Linked DNA regions of Homo sapiens. The protein of the gene in region 3 interacts with the protein of the main gene of each other region in a pairwise test. Each region holds a gene or a part of one and is shown on either strand. Other genes may lie near its edges.

Region 1 (7,204 bases), on a different chromosome or scaffold from region 3:
CTAATATCTTAATGATTTTTCTTTATCTTGAAACATTGTGATATTTCATCATCCATAATGATGGTATTGCTCATTATTTTCAACTACATTTTTAAATGACTAAAATTTAAAAATGAAAGAATGATTGGAATTGCCTAGAAAAATAATGTAATGGTGAAAGAATTACACTAACACAAGCTATTTTACAACATCCCATGTTTTCATATTGCTTTGCCCAAGATATTGCATCATCTTTCAAGAAGATACAAAAGAAGTCTAGAGGTATCCTCCTTGTAGTCTATTTTTGGCTTTTATTGAACACAGTTGAGATTTCACAATTTTTCATTTTTTGCCCATAATGGCAAAGAGAAGAAAACTGACAGAGAAAAACATTTCACAATTATTGAACGAATCAGAAGATGAAAAGAGACAGATAACAGCACTTTGGATGCTAATGATGATGATGAAATTGATTGTATAAGCAAAATCTCAATGAGAGATGATGATTATCTTGGATGAATATACTAGATGAATTTTCTCTAACTTAAGAATTGATGAGTAAACATTATATTTCTGGGGATGAAAAGAATATATGGTATTATCATGTAGTTAGCCTGACAACAGGAAAGATTTAATCCTGAAATATACTGTGACAATAACTTGTGCCATACTGTTTCGCTAAAAGGATGAGGACGGTATTCTTTCCCTTTTTATAACGTTTATGCACCAACATTTATTTGCCAAGGTTTGTAAATGAACATATTGTGATGAAAGATATGTATATAAAGGTGACTGAAAGAAAAGATTATGTAGAAATGAGTAAAATTCATTGGACCAATCATTCTAATTGGTGTTTATAAATCTAAAGATGAAAATATTTTCCAATTATGAAGAAAAGAAGATGGCTTTCTCTTCAACAAAATATATGCCTTTGTAGTTTTCAAAAGTGTTGGTTTTTTTGACAATACAAGTGCAAAAAGAACCAAGATTAATGATAAGCTAGAATTTATTAACGATGCACTCAAAATCTGGAATCAGTATTAACATGATGAATGCATTCCAGGTTCATGCTTAACAGTTGAGCACTTAGTTGCATTCAAAGTACTTTGCCCAGTTAGAGTACATACACCTTCAAAACTAGGATATATGGAATAAAAATTTGAATTTTTCCATGTTTAAATTCTTCTTGAAATTTCTAACACAGTTGTTTTCACTATCCCTTTATTCTTATTTGTAAATTATTTTTAAATGACTAAAAAAAAATTAAAGGTCCACTGGATAGTAAATGGGGATAACTGTTTCTACTGATCCACTGAGGGTTAAGGGGACAGTGCAAATTTCAATAATGGTTCTGGAAATTTTCAGACCTATAACACCTCAGATTGTTTAAAGTTTTGGATTCTCTCGCTCCCCAAGAAAAAGCACTTATGCATGAAATAGTATGTATTAAAATCCCACAAAGTACATGGATTCCTTGAAGTCCGTAGATGAGGAAACTGTGACTCAGAGAATAAGTAACTAACCTACATTTTAATTTGAAGGTAAGACATTATAACTTTATTGCCTGAGTTTAGCCTAAATAATATTTAGCATTTTATAGCTAGAAGTATTTCTTGGCCAGTTTAATACTAAAATTGTTAATTCAATTACTTTAAAGAAGAGAATGAAGCAATAGCTACTATGCTTTAGGACGTGTTCTCTTCTTTCCTAGTCATCTTTCTTTTTCACATTTCCGAAGTCAAGGATCTTTTTAAGCTCTCTGTAGTATAATGTTACAAGGCCGTGCAAACCTCGATCCCACTGTTAACCTCAGACAGTTCATTTCTTTCTGTTGGTGCTGAGGATCACTATCAGGAAATGAAAGAAAGGCTGGTAGACACAGCAGTCACTCGATATGTATAGACTGAAGAGATATGAGAATGCAAACAATATTAAAAGAATTGCAGCTGGGTCATTTAGAAGGGAAAGGAATAATCTTTCTTGAGAAGGCAGCAAACCTGCTGCTGACCTTCTACCTGCTAGAATGTGAGTTACTAATCAATATGACATGTACAACAGCCTGTCAAGTTTTATTGCTTAATGAGCCAGCAGAAAAAAAAGCAAATGTATGTACCAAGCGGGGGGCTCATTGTTCCTTGGTTAATATGTAGCATCTAACAAAGCCACTAGCTGGATCCCTTGACAGGTGTTTTCTACTGCTCCATTCCTTTGTCCGAGGCCGCACATACCAATCAAACACCACAATGCAGAGGTGCTCAAGGCTAGGAGCTGCAGGAAGCTGCCATGGGGCTTCTGGGCAGTTTTGTCGGCATACTGGTCTATCTGGGTGTATCGTCGTAAAGGGGGATTCTGAATTCCATTGCAACCCCAAGTGCAAATGTGGAAATCAAGCAACTTGGAACTTGAAAAAAAAAATCTACTATGAGAAGGGAAAGTGACTGCAAGAGGAGTCAAAATGATTCCTCTTGTTGGAAGGCTACCTCCCACCCTGAAAAAAAATCTTTTTCCTTGTCCAAAGCAATATTTAGAAGTGTTTCTATAGCAATTTCTATATACGTGCTTATCTGTGTATCTTGCTGTGGCCTGGGAGAATGAGCACATTCTTCTTCAAGGCCACAGGATGCAAGAAAGGGACAAACTCGGGGCTGAAGTATGAGAGAGAGCTCTCCTGACGTTAACACACATAATTATGGTTCTCAGGCAAAGAGCAGGCCTTTGCTCCGTCAACAGGGGCCTCCGCGTGCCCCGCAAGGGAGCTCCCGCCCTCACCATCCTCGGTTTCAGGCGGAGCGTAGTTCTCCGCGGTCTCGCTGTCGTTGTTTTCGGTCTCCTCCTCGCCCTCGCCTTCGTGGGCCAGGCCGGCATCCTGGACGGCAGCGGTGACGTTGGTCCCGCGCGCGGACTGGAGGCCCGCCAGAAGCAGCCAGCCGACAGTCATCAGCAGCCCGGCGGAGCAGCCCGTGCCCCTGGGGCTCATGGTTCTCGGCCCCGACGGCCGTCCGAGGCGCAGTCGCCGCCGCGGCTCCTGAGGACAGGTACGTCGAAGAGAGCTGCGACACCCCGCCCGTAGCCGCCCGGCTCCGAATCCCGTGACGAACCGTGACGCCTCAATGGTTGCCGGGGCGCTGCTCCGGTGCTGAGCGCCTGGAACTCGCGCGGAGCTAGGCTGCGAGGCGTGCAAGACGGAACGCGACGAGAAGCCGCGTGCGACAAGTCCCTAGGAGAGGACGCCGCCCTTCCCCGCAACCGGAAGTTCCCTGCCCAGGGCGCCTCCTTGAGCCTTCCGGGTGCGGTAGGCGTTGCTGTCGGCTGCTCCTTCTGCCTCAGTTTATGGAGCGACTCTTCAGCCTCCTCGCTCACCCTGCCTGCTTTCTTTTAAGACATTTCTTTTTCGTACATAATGTTTACCCTTCCCCAAACTAGACTTCTTATCCCTCACATACTCTTCGTGTGACTTGGTTTCAAAATTTCTTATCCAGAATATCCAATTTGGGATGTATTGAGAAGGATTCGATTTCTTCTTTGGGATCAGAATAATAGACTTTGAGTAAGAAGAAATTTAGAAATCATCTGATACTCCAAGTCCCTCATTTTTAAGTGAAGAGATTAAGAATCAGAGAGATGAAATGACTCGCCCCAAAAATCCAGAAATTATTTACAAAGCTGGATCTCACAGTCATATCTCCCGAACACTTACTTACTCGATGATCAGTGATTCTTATGATTCAAGGTTAACGAAGAAGCCTTTAGTGGGGGTGATTGGGAGTTCAAGCGCTGAAAAGTTAGGGTTGACTTTTTTGATTCTGTTATTACAAATTTTACCTCATCTAGTAGTCACAATGTGGTTGTTTGTTGTTGTTTTTGAAAAGACATATAGGGTGCCATACTTTGAGGCTTAATGTTTAAATTCCTATGACAAGTGAGATGAAAGTGAACTTGCATACACTCTGGCTTTTGGAATATTTGAATATCTAGTCTCAGCAGACTAACAGATAAGGGGGGTAACAGAAAAGTATTAAGAGGTTCTTCAGAAACACTTATTTGTAACAAAATAGGTTGTTTGAAGCAGAAGTTGAAATTTTGTATTTGAATATTTTCTCCTGCAAAGGCTTCTAATTTTGAAAATACAAGGACTGCTAAACACCTTCAGTGTTAAAGTTCAAATTGGTATTGGTGAGAAGTCTCGGGAACATTTATGTCAATTAAAATACCTTAAAATATAGCGCTTGACAAGATTATGAGGGACGTTAACATGGAAAACTTAGATTTGATCTTGAGAAGTAAAGGCCTTTGTTTCATGGCTAAATGAGTCAAAATTTTTCTTTTTTGAATCCTGAGAGAAATAAGTCAAAAATTATGCCGTCAAACACAAACTTTAAAAAGATGATATATAGTATTGTTGCTGGCAAATTGTTGAGTGTTTCAAAGTCAATTTTAGGATCCATTGCTTCCTGAAGATAGTATCCTTTTTTAGCAGAGGAAGTCCCATAAACTCTAAAATATGTAATTTGACTCAAGGAAACATTAATAATCTAACAAATAATCATCTCCAAAGGGAGCCAGATGGGTCTCAAAGAGGACCTGAAAGATTTAACTCTGAAATAAAGACTATTAATATCTCTAATAGCAGCATTATAAATCACCTATAAAATACCATGTCACGCATGTAAGTTATAAGAAAAAGTATAATATCTGTCCTCAACAAACTTTTACTGTCTCTCTAGTACTCTCTCTAGCCACAAATAAATGAAAGATAAGTGTTTAGCCAGAAGGGCAGGGCACAGAATCTAGAGGGACTGACCCTACTCTAACCTGCAGATACTAAGGAGCAGGAATTCCACCCTGGATCCCTGATATGCTCCTCTGACCCACCTCATCCTGCCTGGAACTAAGCATCTCCACCCCCATCTCCAATTTCCAAGAGGTGGGGATTAGAGCCCAAACTCCTCTGCCCCACTCTGCCCAAACATAGCTCACCTATCTTGGTCTGACCTTACCTTGCTTGGCCTCATTTGGTATGTGGGAAAATCATTCCTCTATCCAGTCTCTGCACTACCTACCCTTGAAGACCAATTTGTATTCTGAAAAGGAAGACCAATTTGTGTATGTGTGATATAAGCACAAGATAATCAAGGCCTAAATAAAGGATTACCATAAAAATGAAAAGAGAAATGAATGTGAGAGAAATAACAAAGGAAGGATTAACAAAATGGAATGACTGGCTGCCTAAGCAGGATAAGGGAGTGAGGGAGGGAGCAAATAAAGGGAATTAGGAAAGTCAGTAGACATTTTGTTTAAAGGTTAAGTTGGAGGTATCAACAGAAGTCAAGTGAAAACATTCGTTGGGCAGCTTGAGATGACCACATACCAAAAAAGAAGATGAAAATCACTGATACACGCCACGAGCATGAAAAAATACACACACACACACACACATTCAGTTAATACAATGTTCTAAGTACTGCTATAACATTAGAAACTTTACAGTGATATTTGTGAAAATCATTATCTGTGAGATAAAATCGATTTTGGCTTTAATATGCTTGATTTGGTAAAAAGCCTTCTCCATAGTAATCCCCCAGAGAGAAGGTTCTCTCTGGGTGATATTTCTAACCTTTAGGGGAGAAGAGGTTTCTCTTTTGGAGCAAGATCCCAGAGGCAGGATTTCTCCCCTGGCTCTTTTGTCTCACACCCTTACCTCTGTTGTGTCCTTATTCTGTGTCCATCACTTAAAACTGTATTGCTACACAATGTGGGAATTTTGTGGTAGAAACTGTAGGAAACCTACTGCAGGAAAAATATAGGCATAAAAAATTAAAAAGCTGTAGGAACCCCCCTGGATTTTTGAATATAGGAATAGCAGCTTCAAATGGTTGGACTGTATCCTCTCAATAAAATGTAACTGCCTACAAAGGCCCTACCTCACTGAAGGTCTTCTTAAGCCAATAAGAATTTCCATGTGTTAAGGGAAGAGTGGTACCCATAAGATGTTCTATTTTAATAAGAAGAATTTTAAAAGCCATTGAAAATTAAATAATATTCTAGAGCAATGTGGTTGGCATTTGTGACAGGAATAAGTATCACATTGTGAATAAGTCTTGATAGAAAGCATATGGTACTTTCATATTCCTCTATTTGCAGGGCTGTGTAAACCACATTTTCTAAGATTGAATAAGGTCTCCTATCTGTAGTTATTCAGGTTATAGATGCACAGCCTCACTCAGCTACATGTGCCCAGATTAATACATGAAACAGAATTTTAGAATGTACCTATATCATTGAGTTTGCCCCACAGCTTTTGTGATCATATCTTTTGTTTTTTTTTTTTTTACTTTTGAGTCCATGGTAAGAACAAGTTCTCTCATTTCCCTTGGTTACTGAGGAACAAGATCTATCCCACTGTCCCATTTCACTACTTCTCTACCGACTCCCACTCCAAACTCAACTGCTTTCCTATTTTGTCTCCCTAATACTCCTAAAATAGATGTGTCCCTTACCCTGCTTTCTAAACATGGATTCCCTGGTGACAAGCCTGAATTGTCCTAATTTCTGAACTCAAAGTTTCCCCCAGAGTCTCAAATTTACAGTTTCTCCATCTAACTCTACTCTGTACCACCACCACAGCACAAACTGTACAGTGTGTTACAACTCCCATGGTTTCAGGATATTTATTAACAAGCTATATAAAAGTCTACTACCTTTTGACATATACAGCACAATTATACCAGAGCTTTTACACTTTTCACACATGTAGATTAAGGAGAATCTCAGAACTGGATATCTTTAGAGTCTTTAGGAATTCTTGCATGGAACCACTAAACATCAGATGCACCTAAATTATCTTAGGATTTTAATTTTACTTTCAACCGTCTAATAACACAGGACAGGCATTCTGGGGAAGAGTGCTTTGGAAGCAGGTAAAAATACAAGTTGTACTTCCCAAAACTCATAGGTACTCACCTTAAAAATTCTCTAGTTACTTTGAGGTGTGAGTAAAGATTTTCTTCCAAAATAAGATTTTTTAAAATAGCATTATTGAGACATAGGCCATACAATAAGCTGCACACATCTAAAGTAAAGAAGTGCAACTTAAAATCACAATGAGATACTACTTTACCTCAGCCAGAATGACCATTATTTAAAAATCAAAAAACAGTAGATATTGGCATGGATGCAGTGTAAAGGGAACCCTTACACACTGTTGGTGGGAATGTAAATTAGTACA
Region 2 (7,040 bases), on a different chromosome or scaffold from region 3:
GTGGAAATTCCTTTAAGAACTAAAAGTGAGAACTACCATTTGATCCAGCAATCCCACTACTGGGTATCTACCCAGAGGAAAGGAAATCATTCGAAAAGGATATTGCACACGCATGTTTATAGCAGCACAATTCGCAATTGCAAAAATATGGAACCAGCCCAATGCCCACTAATCAATGAGTGGATAAAGAAAATGTGGCATGTATACATCATGGAATACTACTCAGCCATAAAAAGCAATGAAATAACGGCATTTGCAGCAACCTGGATGGAGTTGGAGACCATTATTCTAAGTCAAGTAACTCGGGAATGGAAAACCAAACATGATTATGTTCTCACTTGAGTGGGAGCTAAGCTATGAGGACAGAAAGGCATTAAGAATGATACAATGAATTTTGGAGACTCAGAAGGGTGGGAGGAGGGAGAGGGATAAAAGACTACACATTGGGCATAGCGTATACTGCTCGTATGATGGGTGCACCAAAATCTCAGAAATCACCACTAAAGAATTAATCTACGTAACCAAAAACCACCTGTTCCCCCAAAATTTATTGAAATAAAAAAAACTGAAATAAGTAAATAAATAAATAAATACATAAAGTGAGGGAATTTGGCCAGGTGCGGTGGCTAATGCCTGTAGTCCCAGTACTTTGGGAGGCCAAGGTGGGTGGATTGCTTGAGCCCAGGAGTTCGAGACCAGTCTGGGCAACACGGTGTGGGGAGGATGCTTTTTTTTTTTTTTTGAGATGAAGTCTTCCACTGTCGCCCAGGCTGGAGTGCAGTGGTGCGATCTTGGTTCACTGCAATGGCAGGGTGCTTTTATGCTCTGTGGGGACTCACCACTAGCTCTTGGGAAGAGGCATGCTGTATGCATTGCTGCAGATTTAAGACAGGCCCCTGGGAAGACTGAATGCCATGGGAAAGCCGCAGAGCAACTATCTGATCTCATATCTACTAAAAATACAAAAATTAGCCAGGTGAGGCGGGGGGCAGTGGCTCACGCCTGTAATCCCAGTACTTTGGGAGGCTGAGGTGGGTGGATCACCTGAGGTCAGAAGTTCAAGACCAGCCTGGCCAACATGGTGAAACTCCGTCTCTACTAAAAATACAAAAATTAGCTGGGCATGGTGGTGCACACCTGTAGTCCCAGGTACTCGGGAGGCTGAGGCAGGAGAATCACTGGAACCCGGGAGGCAGAGGTTGCAGTGAGCCGCAATTTTGCCACTGCATTCCAGCCTGGGCAACAGAGTGAGACTCCAGCTCAAAAATAATAATAATTAGCCAGGGGTGGTAGTGCACACCTGTAGTCCTAGCTACTTGAGGGGGCTGAGGCAGGAGGATCTCCTGAGCCTTGGGAGGTCAAGGCTGCAGTGAGCCATGACTGTGCCACTGCACTCCAGCCTGGGAATTCCAGGGCGTGCTCTGTGAGCCACTCACTTTCCCCATGTGCCAATCCAGCTTTGGGACTGGGGCTTGCCCCATATTATCCCTTCACTGCCACCTTCAGGAAGGGTGGAAGAACCTTGCTCCTAGCTGATTTCCTCTAGCAGTAATTTACTACTGATGTCAACTAGCTGGGGCTCACCTGGCCTGAGAGCGAAGAGGCTACAACTTGCACAGACTCTGGAGGAATTGTCCCTGATGATGGAGAAAGTGTGAGCCTGGCTGGGGTGTAATGTCCTGGGGCAGGTGTCCCAGATACTTTATCTCCTTCACAAACGGCTGCACTGGCTCCTCTGGGTGCTGCTGGTGAGCGGCGACAGCTCAGAGGAGCGGGATGAACCCTGGCCTCCGCCTCCGAGTCTGGGGCCCCACCCCATTTCACTGGCAGCTCTGCCACTCATCAGTCAAGCGGTCTGAGGAATGCCATGTCTTCTCCCAGGACTGTGAAACAAGAGGGCTTGGAGGCCTCACATTCTCTGAGTATCTTAATTCCACAGTGGAAAATTTCTCTTGGTTAAAAATGTCATCCAAGAATATTAAAAATAAATTCCAATTTTCTGTGGAAAAAGGCTTGAGTTCTACCTTGTTCCTCCTCAGACCCCTTAACTCTGGTATTTTTACTCCCCGCAAAATAACCTTTTCAAAGGGCATCTGCAAACAGCTGCGTGGCCTTTCTGTGGGGAGGATGCTTTTATGCTCCGTGGGGACTCACCATTAGCACTTGACCTGGCTGTGCTCGCATGGGAAGAGACATGCTGCATGCATTGCTGCAGATTTAAGACAGGCGCCTGGGAAGACTGAATGCCATGGGCAAGCTGCAGAGCAACTTTCTGATCAAGGAACACTGGCTTGTTCCCGAGTTCCCAAGACTCCAAGCCTCCCGGAGACCTTTGGCCAAGGGTAGGGTCACAACTCACCAAGGCGGCTCTTTTTTTTTTTTTTTTCCAAGGGAAAAAGTCTTTCTATAATACCCAGGCTGGTCTGGAACTCTTAAGCTCAAGTGATCCTCCCACCTCAGCCTCCCAAGTGGCTGGGACTACAGGTGCACACCACTGCAGCTGTGCCTGGCTTTCTTCCTAACCTTTTATCATTAATGTGAATCAGAAAGAGACCTTCATGGGTTAACTTGGATACTTTGGCCAAGAACCAAGAAGAGAAAAGCTGACTTTTAAAAACATATAATGTGTATAAATTTATTCAGGTCTACATCTATCTGAGCTACTTTCCACCCTCTATTCCAGACACACCCTGTGATCTCAATAGAATGGTGGCAATGGGTTCTTACAAGGTTGAAAGGAACAGGAAGGGATGGAACCTCAAAGCCAGACGGCCCTTTATGAGAAAAGGGGAGGCAAGCAGTCTGGATTCTTGAAAGGAAAGGAACGCTGGGGATGATTCAATCCAGGAGTAGCAAACAGTTTCCATTTCTGGCGTCAACTCCAACTGATTGATTGGGAAGCAGTTTCTTGGGACGCTTGTGTTCAGAGGAACTCTGGGGCTGTTTCTGCACCCAGCTGGAAGCAGTGCTGCATTAGATTCCTAGGGTTGCTATCACAAATTACCATAAATGTGGCAGCTTAACATGACAGAAATTTATTCTCTCACAGTTCTGGAGACCAGAAGCCTGAAATCAAGGCTCTCGCAGAACCATGCCCTCTCCAAGGCTCTAGGGGAGAATGTTTCCTTGCCTTCCCAGCTGCTGATGGCTCCCGGTGTTCCTTGGCTGATGGCAGCATCCTTCCACTCTCTGCCTCTGTTTTCCCTTGGCTTCTTCCCCTTGAGTCTCTCTGTCTTTTCTCTTACAAAGACATTAGTCATTGGATTTAGGGCTCACCCTTAAATCCAGGAAGATTTCATCTTGAGATCCTTAACTAGTTATATCTACGAAGGCTCTATTTCTAAATCAGGTCACATCCTAAGGTTCTGGATGGATATGTATTTTGGGGGGGCATTATTCAACCCAGTGAGAGTGCCATGATGGTTTAGCAAGCTTGACAGGGGTTCAGGGCTGTGCAGGGATAGGGCTCAGGTCTTCTGCCTTCTGATCTGCCATCCTGATGTAGCCCAAGCCCACAGCTTTACAGATGATGGTGGAACTGAGACTCAGACAATAAAAATAAAAGGGTCTTGACCAGTACCATATAACTATGTAATGGCACATGAGTCAAGAATAAAGAAAGATGAAGATAAAGAGGTGGGGTAGGCAGTTGGGATGGGGAAGTGTAGGGGTGGGAGGGGATGAAGATGAATATTACTGCTTTGGTTGTGGAATAACTGAGAAAAGCATCTTTGCATTTAAAACCATTGGCCAAAGAGGATCTAGATGGGACAAGAAAATAATAATCAGCCAACTGGGGAGAAAATGTAGGAGTGTTAGAAGAATTAGTACTGCACTGGGGACCAGTTTTCAGGGGATCATCTGCCCTTTTTCAGCCAAAGGAATGAGAGCTCCTCTCACTGGGCAAAAGCCTTTCCAGGCTGGTCCCTGAAAGCATCGTGCGTACAGATGCCTGCTGGTTGCCATGGTGAATGATGCTGATCTGAAGAAATGAATAATGTGAGCATTAGGGGCGGCAGTGGGATTACTCAGTGTTGAGAGAAACAACACGGAAAGCCCAGAGCAGAGGAGGGAGAAGGCCCCATTCTCTCAGCTTTAATCTACTGCACCTCGGAGGGCAGAGCTCTAACCAGACACGCTGCAAGCATCAGGTAAGACATATAGATGGCTCTTCTTGGAAATGGAAATGGCTTCTTTTCACACTCTGCTTGGAGAAGGGCCGGGCAAATGAATAGTTAAAAATAGGGGAGAATTTAGAAACGGAAACAGAGGAAGAAAAATCAATAAGGGAGACGGACCTGGTCCTAAAAGGTGAGGATGCTATTTGCGTCTTGACAGAAAGCTCTTAAAAATGTCTGCTGAGGTAATTCCATCTGTACAGACAGCTAGTGGCAGATAGGAAGCCAAGAGAACATTTGTGCGTGACAAGAAACAGGATTCCTGATTACTCCTGATGGAAAGGTTTTACACAGGTGGCTGCCTATAATGAATTAAGCTCTTTTCATCGTGGTCGAAAGTGTATTTATAGTGATGTGTGGTGTGGGGAGGATGAGTGTGTAGAGGACACCAAGCTAGGAAACATAAACATTCGGTCTCCTTCATGATGACCTTCCCTGGAAGGGTCTGAGCACATCCGTCTCATCCCTTTCGTTCCCTATTTACTGGGAAGAAATATTCAGCCACATAGAAAGACACTATTCACCTTCCTGAGTATCTTAGTTCACTGTTACCCTTACAGAAGAAAAACAAGGATTAAGAAACTACTCAATGCTGTGCACCTTTCTGCAGCTCCACTCCTGGAGGAAAATGGGCACAAACACAAGAGGATGGGGGAAAGCAGAGGTGAGAGAAAGGCAGGTCATAATAGCCATTGGTTTGGCTTAATATCCAATGCAGGCGAAAATCCAGTTGACAGCTGTTTACTATGTCACTGCAACCCAAAATGAAACCTACGGGGTTTCATGTGAGGGAGGAGAGGCGGAAGACAAAGCAGGGTGAGACTGTTATGTGAATATGCGTAGGCTGACTATGACTGTCTCTGTATTTCTGATCAGGGGCAATCAGTAGAGGGAACTGCATGAGAGAAACTAAAATACTTGAAGATGGCTCTCTCTTATCAAAGCGGGGCCTGGCAATCTAAAGAGGGCTCATTTGATTTGTCTGGAAAAACAGCAACTGGGTCTCAGTCCTGGCACCTCATTTTGCGATAACGTCTGTAACTAAACCCGGCAGCCTTGCATTAGGAAATGTAGTGGTTAGGCGGCACTAAGTCCTTTTTCTACGTATTAGCGGTGTGACATCAGGTTGCTCATCCGTAAAATGGGAATCTAGCTCAGAGGATGTGATGAAGAATAAAGGAAATTAATTACTGCCTGTGAATCATCTAGCATGACAAGTGACATAGCAACCACTTACTGTGAGTGGTTATTACCATGATTAACATTCATAATAACAGCAGAATTAAATAGTGGTAGTTATGCTGATATTAGGGGCTGATTATCTTCACCCATAAAATAAATTTCCTGGTACCGCTGGCTTTGAAAAAACAAACAAACAAAACAAGAGCAGAAGCTTTGGGGTGAGATCAGCTGCCAAAGAGTGACGAAGCGAATTTCCACTCACCATGGGCAACAGAACCAGGAGGCTAAAAAAAGCAGTGGGCAGAATGTTCTAGATCACTGAGCTCACAGTACTTGGAGCAGAAACAGGAGGTCAAGAAGGAAAATTGAGGTGAATCAATTGCCTGAGGGGAGGTCACAGACCTGAGAATAAAGGTGGAGCCTCTGAGGTTCTACTGATTTCTCCTTACCTTTTCTTCTTTTTTCTTAAGGGGATGAGAACAATCCCCTTAAGAAAATCCCCTTTGTTATCTGAAGGATCTCAGCTAGGGTGGGATGTGGCTGGGATTGCATGGGTGCATCTGTTCTTAGGCCTGAACTTTGGCATGGGACAGCCCCAGTTTTAACTTTTGTCCTGCCACTTTTTCGCTATGCCTAAATAACAGAACCTCTCGGCCTCCATTTCTTTGTCTGTAAGATGAGGGCAACATGAGTGCCCGTCTCAAATGTGCAATAAATGGTGGCTATGATTATGATAAATACATACTTAAATCAGGGGATGTCACTCTTCACTTTGATTCTGGTTCCAGAATCGGGATGAACATCGAGGTGGGGAACATTTCTTATACAGGAGCCATCATCTCCTGGTCGTCCTCGGAGCCCTGCCTGGAGGACTATTACCATATTATGTACAGGCCCAACTGGAACAGCATCTTCTCTGGCTATCTTCGCTACAGCTTCCACCACGAGGAGAAGGTGCCTCGAACGATCAGCTCCGTGGTGCTGGAACATCTTGCCCCTTCCACTCTCTACTTCCTGTGCATCAGCTGTAAGAAGGCTGCCTTCCCTTACAGGCACTACTGCACCATGTTCCACACCCTGGATAAGAGTCCGCTGGCTCCTGGAAGCTCCCTGGTAGACCCCCAGATCTCCCTTTGGGTGCTGATGGCCATTCTGCTGGCCTGCTTCACAGCCGTCTTGGCCTTCATCTGCCTCCAGTTCTGGTGTGTCCGTTGCCATGAGCCGCGATGGTCTTACAGGGCTGGCCACATGGAGGAGGCCAATGGGTTGGTGAGATGGCCAGAGGAGGCCCCGGATCTTGGTCAGAGGGAGGAAGACCTGCAGGGGCTCCCCCTGGTGGAAATGCCACGCAAGAACTCCAGAGATGGAGCTGAACTGGATCCCGAAGCCAACCAGGATGCCCCTGATGCGGGTGCCTTACAGAGGGGGGGTGGTGACCCACCCGCTATACTGCCTCATTGTGGGGAATGAGAGTGGGGAGGAGAGCGCCCGCATCATGTAGCCTAAAGCTTTCCACACAGTAGGTCGTTTGTACAAATGTGTCTATAGACTACCCATTTCTCTCCCATCAAACGTCACTGCTATTGTAGGTCACCTGGGTTGGATGAATGCCCCATGACAAAGCTTCTCAAGCTGGAAAATGTATCCCCCAGGGTATGCCAAGGCACAAACGAGGCATCT
Region 3 (7,027 bases):
GATGTGGCTGAAGCTGCTGCCCAGTCAAGGAGAAACAAGGAATCTATGCTCTCCCGCACATACCTAGGACAATACCCAGTGCCTGCTACGGGTTGCTGTGAGACCGAGACTCAAGTAGACCACCCTCCCTACAGCTTCTTGACCATGCTGCTCACCTGATAGGGGCCCCACCTTCTCTGTTCACAAGCCCACAGCTGGCACCATTTTGAGAGTTTAATGCTGATTCATAACCAGTCTGAATTAACAATCAGGCAATGTGGCTGCAGCTGCCACCCTGGTAGGAAAGGGACAGGGAAGACCAAGCTCTCCTAAGCACACTTAGAACAGTGCCCACCACCCTGCTACAGGTGGCTGTGAGACTGGGGAGTAGCTCACCCAACCCATCACAGCTTCCAGCAACACCAACATGGACTGCTTGGATCCCAGTTGGCTGCTTCAACAGTGCTACTGCCATCACTCACATGACACCACCTGCTCAGGGGCTAGAGATCATGCCCACACACTGGGCTCACCACTCCCACTACTAGCTTCTAAGCAAGCCATGTGGAGGCCCAAGAATCAGCCCTCCAAGACCCACTAACCACCAGAGCAGCGTAAGCTGCTGTGGGGCCTAAAAAGGGCACACTTACCCCACTGTTGCCACCACTGGGGTCCAAAGGCTGCTCAGTTGGCATCCAAGTCCCAGCTAAACTTCTGGGGACTTAGTCTCAGCTAATTACCATACTCTATCCCACTGAGGAAATCACAGAGAACACTGACCCTATGCCGAAGAAGTCATAGAAAGATCACACGACTGCAGGCATCCAAAATCAAAGTCAAAGCATCTTAACAACATGCATATATCCTCAGGAAAAAATTCTCCCTTATAAAAGCAATTTCAAAAAATTGGAACAAGCAACTGCTACACCAGACGCAAAGAAATCAATGGAAGGATACAGGAAACATGTAAAAGCAGAGAAACATGACACCATTGTATTAGTCCATTTTCACACTGCTGATAAAGACATACCTGAGACTGGGAAGAAAAAGAGGTTTAATTGGACTTACAGTTCCACATGGCTAGGGAGGCCTCAGAATCCTGGCAGGAGGTGAAACACACTTCTTATATGGTGGTGGCAAGAGAAAATGAGGAGGAAGCAAAAGCAGAAACCCTGATGAACCCATCGGTTCTCATGAGACTTATTCACTATCACGAGAATAGCATGGGAAAGACCAGCCCCCATGATTCAGTTACCTCCCCTGGCGTCCCCTCTCACAACATGTGGGAATTATGGGAGCTACAATTCAAGTTGAGATTTGGGTGGGGACACAGTCAAACCGTAACAATCATCAAAGAACCACAACAGCTGTCCAGCAGCAGCAGATCCCAATCAAAGAGAATTCTTCAAAATGCTAGATAAAGAATTCAAAATATTGATTTTAAAGAAGCTCAATGAAGTGCAAGAGAAATCTGAAAACTAATACAAAGAAATCAGAAAATTAATCCAGGATATAAATGAGAAATTTATCAAGGAGATAGACATCTTAAATAAAAACAAGCAGAAATTCTGGAACTAAAAAATTCATTGAAGGAAATACACCATATGCTCAAAAACTTCAACAGTAGACTACACCAAGCAGAAGAAAGAATCTCAGAACTCGAAGACAGGACTTTTGAAATAATCCAGTCAGACAAAAATGAGGAAAAAAGGATAAAAAAGAATGAATAAAGCCTTTGAGATGTCTGGGACTGCAAGAAGCAACTGAACTTATGAATTATTGGTATTTCTGAGGGGGAAGAGAGATTAGAAAGTTTAGAAAACATATTTAAAGAAATAGACATCCAGATACAGGAGGCCCAGTGATCCCCAGGAAAATACATTGCAAAAGGACCTCACCATGGCATATTCAAAATGTCTGAAGTCAAGTGAAAGAAAGAATTTTAAAATTAGCAAAAGTGACTAGTCACCTATAAAGGAAATCCCAAATCTCATCAGACCAATTGAGGACTTTTCAGCAGAATTCTTACATGCCAGAAAACAATGGGATGGCATTTTCAAAGTGCTAAAGGGAAAAAAAAAAACAGTGTGTCTGTCAGCCAAGAATTTTGTATCCTGCCAGAATAAGCTTTATAAAAGGAGAAATAAAGTCCTTCCCATACAAGCAAATGCTGAGGGAATTTGTCACCACTAGACTGGTACTACAGGAAATGCTCAAAAGGATCTTAAACACTGAAATGAATGGTGTTTTTAATTAATTATTTTTGATAGAGGGTCTTGCTTTGTCACTCAACCTGGAATACAGTAGTGCAATCACAGTTCATTGCAGCCTTGACCTCGTGGGCTCAAGCAATCTTCCTGCCTCAGCCTTTTGAGTAGCTAGAAATACAGACATGTGCCACCATGCCCGGTTAATTTTTAATTTTTTTGTAGAGACAAGATCTTGCTATTTTGCCCCGGTTGGTCTTGACCACCTTCCATCAATTAATGCCCCTGCCTGGCATCAATTAATCCCCCTGCCTAGCATCCCAAAGCACTGGGATTAAAGGCATGAGCCACGATGCCCAGCCAAAAGGTTGATATTCACCATCACAAAAACATACAGAAGTATAAAACTCATAGTTTGTATAAAACAATCATACAAAGGAAGAGAAAGGAATCAAATGGCAACATGACAGAGTTTCATCAAAACACAAAGTCAAAAAGGCAAAGACAAAGAGTCTATAAAACAACCTGAAAACAATAAACAATATAACAGAAACAAAGTCTCACAGATCCATATTAACCTTGAATGTAAATGGATTAAATGCTCCACTTAAAAGATACAGATTGGCAGAGTGGATGAAAAAACATGATCCATGCTGCTTACAAGAAACTAACCTTACCCATAAAGACATATAGACTGAAAACAAAGGGGTGGAAAAAGATATTCCATGTAATTATAAACCAAAAGCAAGCAGGCATAGCTATACTTATATCTGATAAAACAGATGACTTTAAATTAAAAATAGTAAGAAAAAAGATAAGGTCATTGTATAATGATGTAGGGATAAATTCAGCAAGACGATATAATAGTCCTAAATATATATGTACCCAACATTGAAGCACCCAGATTAACAAAACAAATATCACTAAAGAAAGAGGTAGACAGCAATACAATAACTGTAGGGGACTTTTAACACTCCACTCACAACACTAGACAGATCATTGGGACAGAAAATTAACAAAGAAACATTGTACTTAAATTGAACTTTAGACCAAATGGACTTATAAAACATTCTACCCAACAACTACAGAATATACATTATTTTTGTCAGCACATGGAACATTCTCCAAGATAGATCACATGTAAGGCCACAAAAGAAGTTTTAACAAACTTTTTAAAAATTGAAATTATATCAAGTATCTTCTCAGACCACAGTGGAATAAAACTAGAAATCAATACCAAGAGGAACTTTGGAAACTATACAGATAATGGAAATTAAACAGCATGCTCCTGAACAACTACTGGGTCAATGAAGAAATTAAGACAAATTAAAAACATCTTTGAAATGAATGCAAAAACACATTGTACTAAATCCTGCAGGTTACAGCAAAAGAAGTGCTAAGAGGGAAGTTTATAGCATTAAATGCCTACATCAAAAAAGTAGAAAGATCACAAATTAACAACCTAACATTGCACCTCAAGGAATTAGAAAAGGAACAAACCAAATCCAAAGTTAGCAGAAAAGAAAAAATAAAGATCAGAGCAGAACTAAATGAAACAGGGACAAAAAATTTACAAAGGATCAATGAAACTAAAAGTTCATATATTAGTTCTTGGGATCAATGAAAGTAAAAGCTGATTATTTGAAAAGATAGACAAAATTGATAAACCACTAGCTAGATTAACCAAGAAGAAAGAAGATCCAAATAAACACAATCAGAAATGAAAAAGACATTACAACTGATACCATAGAAATGCAAAAGATCATCAAGGACTATTATGAACAACTGCATGCTCACAAACTAGAAAAACTAGAGGAAATAGATACATCCCTGGAAACACAAAATCCCCCAAGATTGAACCAGGAAGAAATAGAACTTCTAAACAGACCAATAATGAGTAGTGAGATTGAATCAATAATAAAAAACTCCCAAGAAAGCTTAAGACTAGATGTATTCACAGCCAAATTCTACCAAACATACAAAGAAAAACTAATACCAATAATCCTGAAACTATTAAAAAATCAAGGAGAAAGGAATTCTCCCTAACTGATTCTCCGAGGCCAGGGTCACCCTGATACTAAAAACCAGACAAGGACACAGCAGAAAATGAAAACACAGACCAATATCCCTGTGAACGTAGATGCAAAAATCCTCAACAAAATACTAGTAAATCAAATCCAATGGCACATCAAAAAGATAATACACTATGATCAGATGGGATTTATTGCAGGGATGCAAGGATGGTTCAACATATGCAAATCAATAAATATGATACCCCAGGTTGCTGGATTGCGTGGTTTTTCAGTTCTTTGAGAAATCTCCATACTGTTTTCCCTAAAAGTTGTATTAATTTACATTCCCACCAACAATGTATAAGCATTCCCTTTTCTCCACATCCTTGACGACATCTGCTGTTTTTAGAGTTTTTAGACTTTTTTTTTTTTTTTTTTTTGTGGAGATGGAGTCTTGCTGTGTTGCCCAGGCTGGAGTGCAGTGGCATGATCTCAGCTCACTGCAACCTCTGCCTCCCAGGTTCAAGCAATTCTTCTGCCTCAGCCTCCCGAGTAGCTAGGACTACAGGTGCGTGACACCATGCCCAGCTAATTTTTGTATTTTTAGTAGAGACAGGGTTTCACCATGTTGGCCAGGATGGTCTCGATCTCCTGATCTCGTGATCTGCCCACCTTGGCCTCTGAAGGTGCTGAGATTACAGGCATGAGCCACCATGCCCTGCCTAGACTTTTTAATAATGGTCATTCTGACTGGTGTAAGATAGTATCTCATTGTGGTTTTAATTTGCATTTATCTGGTGATTAGTGATGTTGAGCATTTTTCATATGTTTCTTGGCCACTTGTATGTCTTCCTTTGGAAAATGTCTGTTTATGTCCTTTACCCACTTTTTAATGGGATTGTTTTTTCTTGTTGAGTTGTTTGTGTTCTTGTAGATTCTGGATATTAGTCCTTGGTCAGATGCATAGTTTGGCAGCCCCTTCCCCATCGGGCACCACCAGCAGCAGTTGCTATCATGGCCTTGAGGACTGCCGCATGGAACTTACATGTTTTAATTTTGCTGCTGTTAAACATTACACACTTTGCAAATTTTGCGGAGTAGAATATTAAAAGAAAAAACAGGTAAGCCATTAGGTTCCTAGGGCCTTTCTTTTAATTAATGATTTCAGAAAGCCAAAGGGGACCAGGGAGGGAAGAACTTGCTTTGATGAGACTCTTTGATCAGTGGAAGGTGTCTGAGAAGGAATCTAACTTTAGTGAGAACTTATTAATAATTAAAAACAGACCTCAAAATCTCTTGAGAATTTACTATATGCCAGGCCCTGTGCTAAGCACTTAACAGGTATTGTCTTATTAATTTCTTACAACCATGTAGGGTAGAGTTACTGTTTTCATCTTCATTTTCCAGAGAAGAAGACAGGCCTAGTAAGGGTCAGTAACTTGCCCAAGTTCACACAGCCAGTGAATGATGGAGCCTGTCAGGCTGCATTGTTAATCACCATGAGGATCTACCTCTAACTGGGGGCCTGGCCCTTTACGTGCATTAACTCATTTAATCTTCACAACACCCTTGTGTGGATGTTATTATCACTGTTCCCATTTGACGTAGTGAAGACAGTGTGGAATACTGGTTCTGAGCATGGACCTTGAAGCTATGGCTTCTGGGTTCAAGACTCTGCTCTTCCATTCACCAGCTGTGTGACCTTAGTTACTTAACATCCTTCTGCCTAGATTTTTCATCTGTAAAATGGCTTTAATTATATAACTTATTTTGTAGATGTTATGGAAATTAAATGAAGTAATTTGTGCATGGCATTTAGAACATGACCTGGTAAGTATTATTTAAATTATTACTACGATAGAGAGAAAACTGAGGCTCAGAGAAGTTAAGCCCAGGCTACCAGCCTGACAGTGGTGAGATTCTAGGAAGACAAATAGTGCCAGGGTTCATTCCCAGAGATGAACTCTAGGAAGCTGGTCTCATTTATGTTTGGTTGTGATGACTCCAGGATGCAGCTGCCTGTTGAGAGGTAGCACAGTGTGGTGGTAAGGAGCATGGGTTTTAGAGCCAGATGACCTGGGAGCATGTCGTCGTTCTGTCACTCACTAGTCATATGACCTTGGGCAAGTTACATAGCCAGCCTGAGCCTCACATCCTCATCTGTAATGCATCAGTTGTCACGTTCCTCATGGGCTGTTGTGAGACTGAAGGAAGTTCACTCACATATAGAGGGCTTGGGGCCTGACACAAACTGGGTCAATGTGTCTGCTCTGGTCATGATGCTGAAGCAATAGCTCAGTGGGAGAAACGGGAATTGACGGAGAGTCAGGTAGACATGGTTGGGTGTGTCGCCTGAATGGAGAGAGGAGAACTGGGAAGAAAATGTTAGCAGAATAAAGCCGGGGCAACAGAGCTTGCCAGGGCATAGAACAAGGGCGCAGGTTTACTTGTCAGAGGCCACCAGTCCTGGCTAAAATATTTCTGGTGGAACACATTGAAGATCAGTGTGCTCATGGTTTAGGTGTGGCTGTCACAAAAATAAAAAGGGAAGAAGAAAGGGAAATGTGTCATATTTCCTTTGGTAGAAACATGAGTCCAGGTTCTAATTCTTTTCAAAACAGGGCTACTGCAGTGTTTTTCAACAGTGTGTAGGTGGTGGCAGCTCCTGGATTTCACCAGTGTTTTCTGTGGACAGCCATCCCAACCACCAAGTTTTTAATGAATGCTGTGATGTTTTGATTTACTTAATTATTCCATGTAAATAAAACAGCTTTATCAGACAAAATAGGACTATACCATGAGATTATAACATAAAGTCAGAAGCATGAG
Region 4 (7,027 bases), on a different chromosome or scaffold from region 3:
CCTTCCAGGTCCTTCTGAAGGTGCATTTGTCAAGGTAGGAGGATAGAAGGAAAACTAGGTCGTGTGCAGTGGCTCACACCTGTAATTCCAGCATTTTGGAAGGTTGTGGCTGGCAGATCACTTGAGCCCAGGAGTTTGAGACCAGCCTGGGTAACATGGCAAAACCCCTGTCTCTACAGAAAATAAAAAAATTAGCCGGGTGTGGTGGTGCATGCCTGTGGTCTCAGCTACTCAGAGGATGAGGTAGGAGGATTGCTTGAGCCTGAGAGGTCGAGGCTGCAGTGAGCTGTGATCATCGTGCCCTGCATTCCAGCCTGCGTAACAGAGCGAGACCCTGTCTCAAAGAAAAAAGAAAAAGAAAAAGAAAGAAAAGAAAAACTAGGTTAGCAAAGGCACAAGGCACACTTGGACATTGACCACTTCACCCAGCCAGGTCCTCAGAACAGAGCCCACGCCCTGGTATTCAGTGAGTGTGGTCTAACAAGTGAGGCAGCCTGCTGGAGTCAGGCACTTGGCTATGAGTCACAGCCCTTCCATTCACTGGCTGTGTGACCTTAGGAAAGTCATTTCACCTCCCTGAGCCTTACTCACCTCATCTATAAAATGGGAGTGATGCCAATGGGATAAATAAGGCAACACAGGTGAAGTGCCTAACACAGTGTCTGGCCTGCAGCTAAAACTCAACAACTGGCAGTTGTTTGGATGACACGAAACATGCTGCCAGGGCTCAGGGCCTTGCCCAGTAAACACCCAGGCTTTTCTGGTGCTCATGACCCCAGAAATGTTGCTGGTATTCGTCCTGTTAAATTCTGTGCTGCTTTTCTCTTCTTTGGGTGGCCCCTGTGGAAGATGTGCTTGGTCATGACTTTTTAAACTTTATTATTTTTATTTTATTTTATTTTATTTATTTATTTATTTATTTATTTATTTATTTATTTATTTATTTATTTATTTGAGATGGAGTCTCACTCACCCAGTCTGGAGTGCAATGGCACGATCTCGGCTCATTGCAACCTCCGCCTCCTGGGTTCAAGCGATTCTCATGCCTCAGCCTCCCAAGTAGCTGGAAATACAGGCACGCGCCACCAGGCCCAGCTAATTTTTATATTTTGGGTAGAGACAGGGTTTCACCATGTTGGCCAGGCTGGTCTCAAACTCCTGACCTCAGGTGATCTACCTGCCTTGGCCTCCCAGAGTGCTAGGATTACAGGTGTAAGCCACTGAGCTCAACCTATTTTTGTTTATTTATTAACTTATTTATAGAGACAGGGTCTGGTTCTGTCCCTCAGGCTGGAGTGCAGTGGCACAATCATAGCTCACTGCAGTCTCCACCTCCCGGGCTCAAGCGATCACCCTGCCTCAGCCTCCTGAGTAGCTGGGATCATAGGCACATGCCATCACACCTGGCTAATTTTTATTTATTTATTTATTTTGTAGAAACAGGGCCTCACTATGTTGCCCAGGCCGGTCTCAAACTCCTGGCCTCAGGCAATCCTCCCACCTTGATCTCCGAAAGTGCTGGGATTACAGGTGTGAGCCACCACGCCCAGTCAAGAACTTTATTGACTAATAAGTCCCGTGAGTTTTAGATGTCATGACCATTTGGGAACCTGGGTGCATAGTACATTGGTTAACTTGGGAGACATCACCTTTTCTAAAACACTTACTGGCTTAATGTCATTGGAAAAGAAAATGCTATGGTCACCAATGGATGCGGTCTTCTTCCAGGCGGAGACAGCTGTCCTTTCTGTCTGAAGCTACTACTTCCAGGGTTATTACTGTTGCTGGTGGTGATAATCCTAATTCTGGCTTTTTGGGTACTGCCCAAATACAAAACAAGTAAGTTCTTTTAGTCGCTTTACCACCCGTTTTCCCGTGGGCTTGGGATACAGACAGCAGGACAGAGGGTGAGGAGAAAGAGAAAAGGGGATTGGAAATAGAATAGGGAGAAAATGAAAATAGGAGGAAAACATGAGAAAGGGGGGCGGGAATGGAATAGACTTCCTGAACGGTTCATGCAGAGGGTAATTCTTTCTCCAGGGAAAGCCTTTTCTGTTTGAGGGCAAGCAGAGCTGGCTTCACAGACGTACAGCCTGTGCTGTCACACAGGGCCCTGTGCCAAGAAGAACTCCACATTTGGTATTTGTTTATTTATTTATTTATTTATTTTTGAGACAGAGTTTTGCTCTTGTTCCCCAGGCTGGAGTGCAGTGGTACGATCTCGGCTCACTGCAGCTTCCGCCTCCTGGGTTCAAGCAATTCTCCTGCCTCAGCCTCCCAAGAAGCTGGGATTACAGGTTTCCGCCACCATACCCAGCTAATTTTTTGTATTTTTAGTAGAGACAGGGTTTCACCATGTTGGCCAGGCTGGTCCCGAACTCCCAGCCTCAGGTGATCCACCTGCCTCAGTTTCCCAAAGTGCTGGGATTACAGGTGTGAGCCACTGCTCCCGGCTGCATCTTGAAATTCTTCATAATTTTTTGTACGCTCTTTTAAAAATTGTTAATGGTGGTAAAATATACATAACACTAAATGGGCCACTTTAACCTGCTTAAATGCATAGTTCGGTGGCATTAAGCACGTTCCCATTGTCATGCACCCTTCTCCACCATCCATGTCCAGAACTTTTTCATCTTCCCAAACTGAAACTCTGTCCCCATTACACACTAGCTCCCCATCCCCTCTTCCCCCGGGCTCTGCCAACCACCATTCTGCTTTCTATCTCCATTAGTTTGACTCCTCTAGGCACCTCATGGAAGTGGAAGCATTTATCCTTTCATAACTGGCTTATTTCACTTCGATTAATGTCCTCAAGGTTCATCCATGTTGTCATATGTGTCAGAATTTCCTTCCTTGATAAGACTGAAGAATGTCCCATTGTACATAAATACGCCACACTTTGTTTATCCATTTATCCCCCATGGGTACCCGGGTTGCTTCCACCTTTTGTCTATTGTTTAATAATGCTAGGAACGTGGGTGTGAAATTATTAATGTTTTTAAACAAGAGGCCCTTTTCCTCGTATGACTGCTTGTGAAAGATGTACTCGGTCCTGACTTTAAGAACTTGTGTTCCTTTTTTTCTCTCTCTCTCTCTTCTTTTTTTATTCTATATTAAATGGAGACGGGGCCTCACTATGTTGCCCAGGCTGGTCTCGAACACTTGGGCTCAAACAATCCTCCCACCTCGGCCTCCCACAGTGTTGGGATTATAGGCGTGAGCCACTGTGCCGGGCCAAGAACTTGTGTTCTTAATTAAACACAAGTTTAAGGCCTGTGAACAGTGTTCATTTCGCACTGGGCGCTGCAAGTGGTGCGGCTGCTCCTGACTGCAAGTGCCTCAAGCGAGAGCTTTGCCTTGAGTGACTCTAGATCTGCCACATACGTAGGGGAGGTTCAGTGCATGAGGACAAACAAGCGTCATCCCATTAGCACAAAAGACACCTTCAAAAGGTTTACAATTGTTTGGGGCTGGAAGTATTGAAAATATTAGGTTGGTGCATAAGTAATTGCAATTTTTGCCATACTTTTATGGCAAAACCCACAATTACTTTTTTTTTTTTTTTGAAATGGAGTCTCGCTCTGTTGCCCAGGCTGGAGTGCAGTGGTGCAATCTCGGCTCACAGCAGCCTCTGTCTCCCTGGTTCAAGCGATTCTCCTGCCTCAGCCTCCTGAGTAGCTGGGATTACAGGCACCCACCACCATGTATTTTTAGTAAAGACAGGGTTTCACCATGTTGGTCAGGTTGGTCTTGAACTCCTGACCTCAGGTGATCTGCTCGCCTCAGCCTCCCAAAGTGCTGGGATTACAGATGTGAGCCATTACGCCCGGCCCACAGTTACTTTTGCACCAACCTAATATATACATATTTTTTATTTCTACATTTCTATGCTTTCTAGATTTTCAATGTAGAAGTATAATCTATTCTACTATAAGATTTTTTAAAAAACTTTATTAAACACACCAGACTCAAAAAAACAAAAACAGAAACAAAAAAGCATCATTTCTCTCTTCCCCACCTTAAGTGCTACATCCAGCAGAAAACTTGTCAATGTTATTAGAAGCCTCAGTTACAGCTTTTTTAAAAAAATGTTTTTTAGAGACGGGGTCTCACTGTGTTGCCTAGGCTGGTCTTGAACTCCTGGACTCAGGCGATCCTCCCACCTCAGCCTCCCAAAGTGCTGGGATTACAGGCATGAGCCACTGCACTCAGCCCAGTTACTGCTTTTCATTCCTCACGTCTTATGGCCACCACTGGTTAAGCCTTCAAAGTGGTTTTTTCATTTGGTACACGAGTGCAGAAGGATATGAAGATTTACACAAAAGACAGTTTGGGTCTCAGCACTGGCCCCCATCAGCAAGCTGAGGGCTGTTGGACAAGCCCCTCAGGCTGTTGCTTCTGAGCCTCAGTGTTCTGAGTTGTGGAATGGGCCATGGAGATATTGTCAGAACTGGCAAGAGAACCAATTGAGAACCATCTCCAGAGAGTCACAACTCAGAGAAGTCAGGGACTCAGTTGACATAAAACTTGAACACAGAGGTCACAAGTTATACATCTGATGCATCTTTAAGATTTTATTTTATTTCATTTCTTTTTTTTAGAGATGGGGCTTCACTGTGTTGCCCAGGCTGGAGTGCAGTGGTGCCACCATAGCTCACTGTAACCTCCCACCTTAGCCTCCCTAGTAGCTGGGAATACAGGTATGCACCACAACTCCTGGCTAATTTTTTTTTTTTTTTTTTTTTTTTGAGGCAGAGTCTCGCTCTGTTGCCCAGGCTGGAGTGCAGTGGCACAATCTCCGCTCACTGCAACCTCTGCCTCCCAGGTTCAAGCGTTTCTCCTGCCTCAGCATCCTGAGTAGCTGGGATTACAGGCGCCCACCACCACGCTAGGCTAATTTTTGTATTTTTAGTAGAGATGGGGTTTCACTATGTTGGCCAGGCTGGTCTTGAACTTCTGACCTCGTGATCCGCCCACCGCGGCCTCCCAAAGTGCTGGGGCTGGTGAGCCACCGCGCCTGACATTTTTTTTTTTTTTTTTTTTTTTGAGACAGGATCTCACTTCCATCACCCAAGGCTGGAGTGCGGTGGTGCAATCATGGCTCACTGCAGCCTTGACCTCCCAGGCCTCCTCCTGCCTCAGCTACCTGAGTAGTTGGGACCACAGGCGCGCACCACCATGCCTGGCTAATTTTTTTTTTTTTTGTAGGTTTCACCATGTTTCCCAGGCTAGTCTTGAACTCCTGGACTCAAACCATCCTCCTGCCTCAGCCTCCCAAAGTGCTGGGATTACAGTTTTTTGTTTTTTTTTTAATTACAAAATTCTTTTTAGAGACAAGGTCTCACTATGTTCCCCAGGGTGGTCTTGAATTCCTGGCTTCAAGTGATCCTCCCACCTCAGCTTCCCAAAGCACTGGGATTACAGGCGTGAGCCACTGCACCCTGGCCCACATCTCATATGTCTTAAAAACATGTTTCTCCTTCTTATAAAAAGTCCAGGTTCTTGCAAAAGTGGCATTAATATTTTTGATTACTGGCTGGAGCTACAATAGAATTCAGTGAGGCTGGCCGGGCACAGTGGCTCATGCCTGTAGTCCCAGCACTTTGATCACCTGAAGTCTGGAGTTTGAGACCAGCCTGGCTAACATGGTGAAGCCCCGCCTCTACTAAAAATACAAAAAATTAGCCAGGCATTGTGGCACATGCCTGTAATCCCAGCTATTCAGGAGGCTGAGGCAGGAGAATCGCTTGAAACCAGGATGCGGAGGTTGCGGTGAGCGGAGATTGCACCATGGCACTCCAGCCTGGGCAACAGAGCAAGACTCCGTCTCAAAAAAATACAAAAATTAGCTGGGCATGGTGGTGCACAACTGTAATCCCAGCTACTCGGGAGGCTGAGGCAGGAAAATCGCTTGAAACCAGGATGCGGAGGTTGCGGTGAGCCGAGATCACGATAGTGCCACTGCACTCCAGCCCAGGCGACAGAGCGAGACTCCATCTTAAAAAAAAAGAATTCAATAGGCCATTTACACTCTCTTGAAGATATTACAAAGCTTCCACAGACTATTCTCTTCAGCGAAGGAAAGAAAATAAGTCTGGCTAGTTCAGGCATAATCTGATAGGCAAAGCATGTTCCTCTGAAGGCCAGGAAAATAAATCAGAACAGCCCCTGGCTTGGAGGAGCGGTGTCTAGACTCCCTGTTGAGTCTATAGTTTTCCTTTGTTAGACAACAGTTTGGGCCATTGGAGCAAGTCACTCTCTGTTTCAGAACTTTGAGGGAATTCTGCTCCTTGGCCGAGGAGATGAGAAAAATGTGGCTGAATTGGTTTAATTTGATGATTCCTACCTATTTACGTAGGAAAAGCTATGAGAAATAATGTGCCCAGGGACCGTGGAGACACAGCCATGGAAGTTGGAATCTATGCAAATATCCTTGAAAAACAAGCAAGTAAGAGAACTTTGTTGCGTGTTTTGGGTGGTTTCAGGTTTTTGTCTTTTTATTTTGTTAAGGTTGTACAGACATACGGGAGTGGGGGGTGGAGCAAAAGGGATAGAGTTCAATGTCTATTGATGCCCAGTCCCACTTTCTAGGGGTAATAACCAGTTTTTTAAATCCTTCCACAGATATTCTGTGTGTATAATAAACAAATGGTAGTGATTGTAGCATATTGTAGGTATGACTTTCTACACCATGATTTTGTTTTTTTTTCATGTAACAACGTATCTTGGAGATTTTTCACATCTGTTCAGAATGATCCACACTGTGTTTCACAGTCTTTCACGGTCACCTCTCAAAGCAGGCATTGCATATTGCTTTGCAGTAAACAAGACCCAGCGCCTCGGCTGATGTATTAGTCCATTCTCATGCTACTATAAGGACATACCTGAGATGGGGTAGTTTATAAAGGAAAGAGGTTTAATTGACCCACAGTTCCGCAGGGCTTGGGAGGCCTCGGGAGACTTACAATCATGGTGGAAGGGGAAGCAAACACATCCTTCTTCCCAAGGCGGTAGGAGAGAGAAGAAT

Evidence for each region.
Region 1: the proteins of TMEM140 (region 3) and SPACA1 interact in binary tests that used the Homo sapiens proteins (3 or more experiments, as listed by UniProt).
Region 2: the proteins of TMEM140 (region 3) and FNDC9 interact in binary tests that used the Homo sapiens proteins (3 or more experiments, as listed by UniProt).
Region 4: the proteins of TMEM140 (region 3) and MILR1 interact in binary tests that used the Homo sapiens proteins (3 or more experiments, as listed by UniProt).

What each region holds. Positions count from the first base shown.
Region 1 is NC_000006.12:88,043,658-88,050,861, reverse strand, and holds the start of SPACA1 (sperm acrosome membrane-associated protein 1 precursor), read right to left. Parts: upstream 3,022-7,204; 5' UTR 2,957-3,021; coding exon 2,749-2,956; intron 1-2,748. UniProt on the Homo sapiens protein: Plays a role in acrosome formation and establishment of normal sperm morphology during spermatogenesis. Important for male fertility.
Region 2 is NC_000005.10:157,342,652-157,349,691, reverse strand, and holds the start of FNDC9 (fibronectin type III domain-containing protein 9), read left to right. Parts: upstream 1-4,014; 5' UTR 4,015-4,151; intron 4,152-6,148; 5' UTR 6,149-6,155; coding exon 6,156-6,830; 3' UTR 6,831-7,040.
Region 3 is NC_000007.14:135,151,068-135,158,094, reverse strand, and holds part of TMEM140 (transmembrane protein 140), read right to left. Parts: intron 1-7,027.
Region 4 is NC_000017.11:64,459,094-64,466,120, forward strand, and holds part of MILR1 (allergin-1 isoform Allergin-1L precursor), read left to right. Parts: intron 1-1,728; coding exon 1,729-1,839; intron 1,840-6,358; coding exon 6,359-6,448; intron 6,449-7,027. UniProt on the Homo sapiens protein: Immunoglobulin-like receptor which plays an inhibitory role in degranulation of mast cells. Negatively regulates IgE-mediated mast cell activation and suppresses the type I immediate hypersensitivity reaction.